Regions from separate parts of the Homo sapiens genome. Here region 2 is reported to be linked to region 1. The links are microRNA targets in miRTarBase. Many come from high-throughput screens and were not tested one by one. Region 1 holds a microRNA gene; the other region holds the end of a gene's coding sequence.
The links. Region 1 holds the annotated microRNA hsa-miR-532-3p (CCUCCCACACCCAAGGCUUGCA, at 2,919-2,940, opposite strand). A microRNA usually pairs through its seed, bases 2 to 8, with sites in the 3' UTR of a target mRNA and lowers its output. Matches are read on the target gene's strand: a 7mer-m8 pairs with bases 2 to 8, a 7mer-A1 pairs with bases 2 to 7 and ends in A, and an 8mer does both.

Region 1 (4,527 bases):
CTCCATCCATCTCTCAACTGAATTATTTCAATGGCCTCCTAACTGGTCTCCCAGTTTCTGCACTTTCTCCTCCTATTTGCCATACAACAGTCAGAACCATACTTGTGAAGCAAAGACACAGAAAACTGTAATCCTGATTTTGAATCAGAAGTATAATGGAATCATGATGTATTTATCTAGAAACAAGAAAACACAAAAACAAAACATTTTTCTGTTCTGATCATTGTAGAAGCCTAAATACAATGACCAATCCAGAGGCAAATATGGTCTTTAAATATCATGTCTGATTAAAAGAAACCAGGGCTTCTTGAAGACATGGCAGATTCCAGGCCTGGGGAAGGTATCTGCGATGAGCTTTGTACATTTTTTTCATCTCTGAAAGCGGAGAAGCTATCAGATAACTACGGAGGCATGTCAAAAGGACTGAGGAACCAATTTGAAGAAGCTCCTACTGGCTAAAGATGGGGCACTGGAGCTTCACTGAAGGCAAGAACTGCAATGGATTAAAAGTCCAAATATATTTAAATCTATGAGTTTATTATAATAGTTTTTTTAAAAAATCCTCTTTAGAGTAAGCTAGTGAACCAACTCATTATTCTGAGTACTGATAAATAAAGAGAACCAAACATTTATCCTATCTTGCCTATAAAGACGGCAACACTGGGTGATCAAATAGCAGATGAAGGGAAGTTTTTCTTTATAGAAGTATTCCAGCTAATAAATCAAGAGAATAATGGGATTAGAATATCATCATTTTGCAACCCCTAATGAAATAACGGCTCTAAGAATTGAGCATCGGTGGCAACTAACATCACAGAAAGATGATCATCAGTTATTTTGTGCCTCTTAATGGAAGTAGTTCTGCTCCCCCTTCCTCAAAATTAAGCCTGAATTTGATCAGGCTTCCAGATGCAACTATCAGTTTACAGGAAATACAAACAAGGAGAAGGAACATGTAAACTACATCACAGGGATGTGATCACAAAAATCCAGACTATGCAAAACTGTATAGGATGAATGGCCCACTTTCTTCCAACAAATAAATTATAAGGAAAGAAAAAATATAGATGGAAGGGAAAGATATAATTCAAAGGGACTTAAGATACATATCAACCAAATGCAATGCATGGACCTTATCTGGATCCTAATTTATGATATTTCTGAGACAAGTGGAAATGGGAACAACAGATATGTGATGATATTAAAAAATTGTTGGCAATTTTTTTTCTTTTTGAGATGAAGCCTCGCTCTTGTCACCCAGGCTGGAGCGCAGTGGCACGATCTTGGCTCACTGCAACCTCCGCCTCCCGGGTTCAAGCGATTCTCCTGCCTCAGCCTCCCGAGTAGCTGGGATTACAGGCACCTGCCACCAGGCCTGACTAATTTTTGTATTTTTAGTAGAGACGGGGTTTCACCATGTTGGCCAGGCTGGTCTTGAATTCCTAACCTCAGGTGATCTGCCTACCTTAGCCTCCCACAAAGTGCTGAGATTACAGGCATGAGCCCCTGTGCCTGGATGGTAATTATTTTTAAGTGTGATAATGGTATGATTTTTTTTTTAAAAGCGGCCTTAGATTTTAGAGATACATAGTAATTATCAGCTTTCCCTTTTTCCATTGTAACTTACTACTTCCCAGCCCTATGCTTCTGCCACAATGGCTCTTTGTTGTTCCTAGAACACAGTAGGCCTTTCCTGACTACCCTATTTGATATCGAAACTTCTCCACCACCATCTATGCTGTAACTACCCCCACCCACTCCTTGTCCCCTTTTCCTGCCTTATTATTCTCCAGAGCACTTATCAACAATTGGCACACTATCTATTACTTACTTATTTTGTTCACTACCTGCCTCCCCTCACTAGGGCAGGGATTCTTGTCTTTTGGTCACTGGTGTATCCCTGGTGCATAGGGGAGTACCCAACACACAGTAGCTGCTCGATAAATATTTGCTGAATGAATGAGTGGCTCACCAAATGAATCGGCTGCAAATCCTGGGTCTGGGGAGATAACAGAGAAAACTCACAATCTGACTCATATCTACATGAGTGTCTAAGAAGACAGATCTTCACACACCCTCTTGAGCAAACAAGTGTGCATATGGAAAGGCATGGCACAGTGAGTGGATTCTACTTTCTGAACCCAAAATGTGTGTGCATATTACATCTTTGCATATGGTTATGATATAGACACAATTTTCCTCACAAACTGGGTTTGTGAGAATTAGCTAGAAGACTCCCTTTTCATCATGCCCCATGTACAGGAGTCCTGAGAAGGTTCTCTCTCCTCCTCTAGGTGCCGCTAAGACAGAACCAGGTCAAAAGACCCCCCTTCCTTCTCTAGGCTGTGCCTATCCCTGAGTATGAGGGGCTGCACCATGTGCAAGAGAAAGCTAAGAGAAGTCTCCCTCTCCTGCAGGATCCATGTAAGACTGAGATGGGAGAAAGGACATGGCTGAGAGTCATTCTCCTTCCCACCACATGGGTGTGTGTTTTTCTTTTGGTGAAGGAGTGCGTATGTGTATATACACATGCACAAGAGAGCAAGGAAAGCTGAGGCTCGCCATCCTGCAAACCCTGCATGTGGGAGGGGTTTTCAGAAAGCTCACCCTCCACCATGCAAGGGATGTGAGAGAGGGAGCAGGGAAGGGCTTGCTCTCTTGGCACGACATATGGGTATGCTCTAGGAGGCAAGAGGCACTGGCCTGGGGGGTGCAAGTGGGCAGCAAGATAGCCACAGGAGTGCTGATGGGTAAACTAGGAGCAGTGGCCATGGAAGCAGGACAGTCATCCAGATGGGATGGCTGCTAACAGTGTACCCCACATACAGAGCACGTAAGAGAGGGTCTACCTCCCTTTGGTGTACCTGTCCATGTGCTCATGCCTATGCACTGGAGAGGGAAGAGAAGGCTCGCTCTTCTGCAAGCCTTGGGTGTGGGAGGGTAATTAAGATGCCAACGGTCCTACACTCAAGGCATGGAGGAGAGAAAGCAAGTCGGGAGGTCTGCTCTCCTGTATACTGTGTGCATGCGTATCCCAGATGCCTTGGACTTCTATGACTGTGCCCCAGACATGCTGTAATGAGAAGGTGTGCTTGTGTACATTCACATATGTACCTTCAGAAATGTTCACTATCTACAACATATTTGTTTTCCTTCCTTCTTTCTTTTCCTTTATTTTTATTCCTAACACCAGTATAGTATTTACATTTGCAGAGCACTGTTTTAAGTGCTTTTCACACATAGCTCATTTATTCTCATAAAATATCCATGAGGTGATCATTATCCCTATTTTACAGATGAAATAACACACATACGAGAACAGATGGTAAGAAAGCTTAGAATCTGGCATGCAGGTCATTAGAAAGAGGACTCAAAAAAGGAGGCTCAAGCTCTCAGCCACCAACCACTTTGTGTCCACACACACACCACACACACACACACACACACACACACACACACACAGAGAGAGAGAGAGAGAGACAGAGACAGAGACAGAGACAGAGAGACAGACAGACAGACAGACGCAAGAGAACTTGCACTTGTCAGCCCAGGGAAAAGCTGGATTAGTGTGGAAATAATAGAGGAAGTGAGAAGTATGAGAAGTGGCTGTGTGGTCAGATTAGACATGTATTTTGAAAGTAGAGCCAACAAGATTTGACAGCAGTTTGTATTTGGAGAATGGAGGGGAAAAAGTGTCAAAGATGAATCCAAAACCTTTAGCTTATTAAAATTCTCCATATCCTTGGCATATGCAATTGGGAAATGCTGTTTGCTGAGTTGGAGAACACAGAGGGAGGAGTAGGGCTTTTTGAGAGGGGGAGGAAAACCAGGACCTCAGCTTTGGATGTGTTAAAGTTTTGAGATACTTATTAGACATTCGGGGCAGATGTCCAGTACATAGTTGGACATAGGCATCTGGAATTCAGGAGAGAAGTCCAGGCTGGAAATACAAACACAGAAATCATCCACATAAAATGGTACTTAGAGTTGCAAGACAAGATGAGAACAGCTGAGGACTAATGAGAAGTTAAAAAAAAAAAAAGAAGTCTGAAGACTAAGCCCTATATCTCTTTAATACTTAGAATTCAGGAAGAGGAGGAGAAACCATCAAGAGACTGAGAAAGAGAGGCTTGTGAGGTAAGAAGACAACCTCATGAGTGTGGAATCCTGGAAAGCAGGTAGAGTCTCAAGGCAGAGGGAGTGATCAACTGTGTGTTGATCTGTCAAGTAAGATGACAACATTGCCCAGTAAATTGGGAAATGTGAAGGACACTGGGGACCTTGACCAGGGTCATTTAAGTGCTGCAGGTTACAGTTTTACATGGAGGGTTTTCAAGAGTAAATGGGACTAACATTTAAGTCTTTAATCCATCTTGAATTAATTTTTGTATAAGGTGTAAGGAAGGGATCCAAGGACAGAAAACCAAACACCACATGTTCTCACTCATAGGTGGGAATTGAACAATGAGAACACTTGGACACAGGAAGGGGAACATCACACATCGGGGCCTGTCATGGGGTGGGGGG
Region 2 (4,000 bases), not on the chromosome of region 1:
TACAAGCCGGGTAAGAGAGGCCCCATGTGCTTTGCAGTTTTAATAGAGTTTGGGGTTAAACATGGGGAAGCCTTTTTGGGCTATCCCATACCTGGCCACTAGAACAAACTCTCCAAGCTGGTGATGGAAACATCCCCTTAGAGCTCTTTAAAAATAGGCTGGGCGCGGTGGCTCACACCTGTAACCCCAGCACTTTGGGAGGCCGAGGCGGGCAGATCACCTGAGGTCGGGAGTTCGAGACCAGCCTGACCAACATGGAGAAACCCCGTCTCTACTAAAAATACAAAATTAGCCAGGTGTGGTGGTGCATGCCTGTAATCCCAGCTACTCGGGAGGTTGAGGCAGGAGAATGGCTTGAACCCAGGAGGTGGAGGTTGCAGCGAGCCAAGATCACACCATTGCACTCCAGCCTGGGCAACAAGAGCAAAACTCTGTCTCAAAAAAACAAACAAAAAAAAATCAGGGTCTCACCCACCTTCCTAAAGCGATTTCACATTTCCGGCCCTGAGTCTGAAGGCCTCGGGAAGGATCGGCACTCTGGGAGGTGCAGCCCCAGGCGGTTCAGTGAGGTTCTGGTTGTTTCTGTGTCTCTGCTTGCAGGTGCACTGACGTTCCTCCTGTCCATGGGGAGAAATGACGGTGTGGGCCAAATCAGTGGCTTCTATGTGGGCCGGCTCATGGTTCGGCTGACCAAGAGCCGGGACCTGTTCGTCTCTACGAGCTGGAAAACCATGAGGCAGTCTCCACCTTGATGGAGAGGCCAGGCGGGAGAACTACCGCAGCAGGTGGGCGTACGGACTGCTTGGCGCATGGCACCCGCCTGGCAAGTGCTAGAACTAATGCTATTCTTCTGGAATAAGATGCCAATGATGTGGTGGCTAGAAATGCAACTTGTATAAAACAAAAATGGGAGAGAGAGAGGTATTAAACAAATACCCCCCTTAGAGGATACTTTCTGGGTTTGGAAGGTGTGCTTGCTGTGGTACTGGGTGAGCGGCTCATGTGTGCTGGCTGCATGGTGCTGGGGAGGCCACAGCCAGCCCTTCCTCTGCACCTGCCTCCTCTGGGATGTGCATGTGTGTGTACGTGCTTGTGGTCATGACGCGTGCCATTTAGAGCTCTCAGAGCAGGGCAGATTGCTGGGCTCTGGTGGCCAGTGTCTGTCTGTGAGGGCAGGAAGGAGAGCTGCACATTGAGAACAAAGGAGGGACCTGAGGTGGAGAGAGGCCCAGCACCCCAAATCTCTGCCATCACACGGTCGGGGAGCCCATACATTCTGCAACAACCAGGGACTTCACAGGAGCCTTGTTTTCAATTTGCTAACAGGTGCATAATCCCTGTGCTCCTTAAGCCTCATGGCCTTCCTACATTTCCACTTTATTTGTTTGTTTGTTTATTTATTTTTGAGACAGTCTCGCCCTGTCACCCAGGCTGGAGTGCAGTGGCACGATCTCAGCTCACTGCAACCTACGCCTTCTGGGTTCACGTGATTCTCTTGCCTTAGCCTCCCAAGTAGCTGGGACTACAGGCACGTGCCACCATGCCTGGCTAATTTTTGTATTTTTTAAATAGAGACGGGGTTTCACTGTGTTGGCCAGGCTGGTCTCGAACACCTGACCTCAGGTGATCCATTCGTCTTGGCCTCTCGAAGTGCTGGGATTCCAGGCGTGAGCCACTGCGGCCAGCACATTTCCACTTTTAGATCCTACTCCATACCACAGGTTTCATTTAAGAAGAAAGAGCTAGATAAATGTGCTCTTCTGGTTACCCCACCCTGACAGAGTGCATTTTTACACGGCTAGCAGGGGTTGAGACTGCAGCCTGGCCTGCCAGCCATTGGAGGTGTTTAAGGAAGGGCAGATAATGTGACTCTTTGCGGGGTGCCATCTGCTTACCCATTAGCGAGCAGAGGGGGTTTCTGCGGGTGACCCCCAGCATATTTCTAGGTTACTTATGGGCAGATTTGTAAGTGACAAAACTCCAGCTGATGCTGGGAATGGGGAGAGGGCCCTTGAGGGACTTTGTGGTTTTGTGCTTCTGGTTTCCTGGCCAACCCCAGGGTCACTTGTCTGGAGGCCCAGCTGGGCACTAATGTCTGCCACCGACTATGTTACAGTGTATAAATGATTCCTCTATTTGGGAGAGATCTTCCAATCCAGAGGAGCCCCTCTTGGACTGCCTGGGTTAAATCTGCATAGCAGAAGTGGTTGATGAGTTCATCTGAAGAAATTCAGGCCCCACCTCCCCACCCTGCCCCTCCCTGCTCCCTTTTGATGGTGGCCTCTGGGTACTCGGGCAGAGTCCTTGGGACACCAGCCTCTCTGGGGTTCTCAGGCCATCCCGTTGGGGCTGTCGCCCAGGCCTAAGTGAGTCGTGTGCCTCTATTGGAGGATGGCTGTTCCCCTGGTGGTTGCATCCAAGTATCTGTCTTTCTTTATGGACCACGAAGGGAAGCCCACCTTCCTGGAGGCAGGACCTTCGGCCTAAGAAACACAGGCCCTGGTGCTATCTGACCTGGGGTCCAGCGAGGTGGGAATCCCAGTGTGTGAGCGACAGGCCTTCTTCTATTGACTTACAATATTCTAGAAGGACCTACGTGTGGGGACACAGTTTTCCAAACTGAGGAAAATGTTGCAATAAAAGAATATGTTGTAAGAAAGACACTGGATCTTTTATTTTTTTCCTTTCATTTTCTTTTTCTTAAAAAAACAAAATGAAACCAAAAAAAAGCCTGAATCAAAACCTTTTTAGGAGTAGTTACAGATATTATAGGGATGGGGGCGGGGGGCACTAAAACAAAAGAGAAAAGCACCAGTGAGATGTCTTTCCCATTTTCTTCTCTCCGCCACGGAACACGCACACCAACAGAGCCCAGGCCACTTTTTGCCCTCTTCCCTTGGAAAAAGGAGGAACAGAAGATTTAAGAATTTTGAAAGGATTTTTTTCTTGTGTGAATGTGTGTAAAAGTCAATGCTATAAATCTAAAACGAGGTCTGTTTTTTTAAAAAAGTTCTAAAACAACAGGAGGAAAACACATGGAAAGAAACCCCTCGCGGAGACCTGCTTCCTTACAGATGGAGGCTCTTTTGGAGGAGAGTGTGAAGGGCAGAGGGCTCCCTGCGCCGGCAGGACCTGCCCGGCCACCCTCCACTCCCCTGCCATCACCCCTCCTCTCTCCTTTTAAAAAGCAAAACCCCACTCTTGGGACTCGGGTCGTCCTCCGATCCCTGCTGGAAAGTGCGGCGGCTACTTGGCGTCGAGCTTGGCCATCTCCTGCACGTAGATGCCGATGCTCTCGCTGTCGAAGAGCAGGAAGTACACGTTCTTCAGCGAGGACGCGCTCGAGTCATCAAAGTGGGCTGAGATGGCTTTGAGGGTCACCTGGGCCGCAGTCTGTTTGGGAAAGCAGTTTCTGTGCCAAAGCAAAAGAAGAGCCGATGTCATTTTGGTCCCTGGGACCCATGGGAGCATGAAGTGCCTTTGTTTTTACTGGGTGGGGCCTTGCTGTGTGCAGGGCTAGTCCATGCATGATCTCCTTTGACCCTAGCCAAAGGGACAGCCTGGGGGTGGCAGGTGGGGCATGTTGCCCCCACTTTATAGGTGTCACACTGACTCGGAGAGGCACAATGATTTAATTTGATTAAATTAATTTATTTGTTTTGGGATGGAGTCTCTCTCTGTTGCCCAGGCTGGAGTGCAGTGGCGCGATCTCAGCTCACTGCAACCTCCACCTCCCGGGTTCAAGCGATTCTCCTGCCTCAGCATCCCAAGCAGCTGGGACTACAAGTGCGCACCATCATGCCTGGCTAATTTTTGTATTTTTAGTAGAGACGGGGTTTCACCATGTTGGCTAGGCTGGTCTTGAACTCCTGACCTCAGGTGATCCGCCTGCCTCGGCCTCCCAAAGTGCTGGGATTACAGGTGTGAGCCACCGTGCCCTGCCAAGCACAATGATTTTAGTCAAGGTCACAGGGCTGGCCAAGTGAAGAGTGCCCTGTAT

Region 2: miRTarBase lists AIFM2 as a target of hsa-miR-532-3p. Seed matches in the 3' UTR shown: 7mer-A1 at 908-914 and 7mer-A1 at 2,138-2,144.

Annotation. Positions count from the first base shown.
Region 1 is chrX:50,001,617-50,006,143 of GRCh38, reverse strand. It overlaps MIR532 (microRNA 532), which reads right to left and starts at 2,996; the gene lies at 2,906-2,996. The region is part of intron 3 of CLCN5 (chloride voltage-gated channel 5); the gene reads right to left. It overlaps MIR188 (microRNA 188), which reads right to left and starts at 2,641; the gene lies at 2,556-2,641.
Region 2 is chr10:70,110,930-70,114,929 of GRCh38, reverse strand. It overlaps AIFM2 (AIF family member 2), which reads left to right. Exons shown (of 9, transcript NM_032797.6): 8 at 1-10; 9 at 601-2,659. The coding sequence ends at 752. It overlaps MACROH2A2 (macroH2A.2 histone), which reads right to left. Exons shown (of 9, transcript NM_018649.3): 9 at 2,648-3,412. The coding sequence ends at 3,247. Among named protein-coding and RNA genes, the nearest start is that of AIFM2, 20 kb to the left of the region's middle.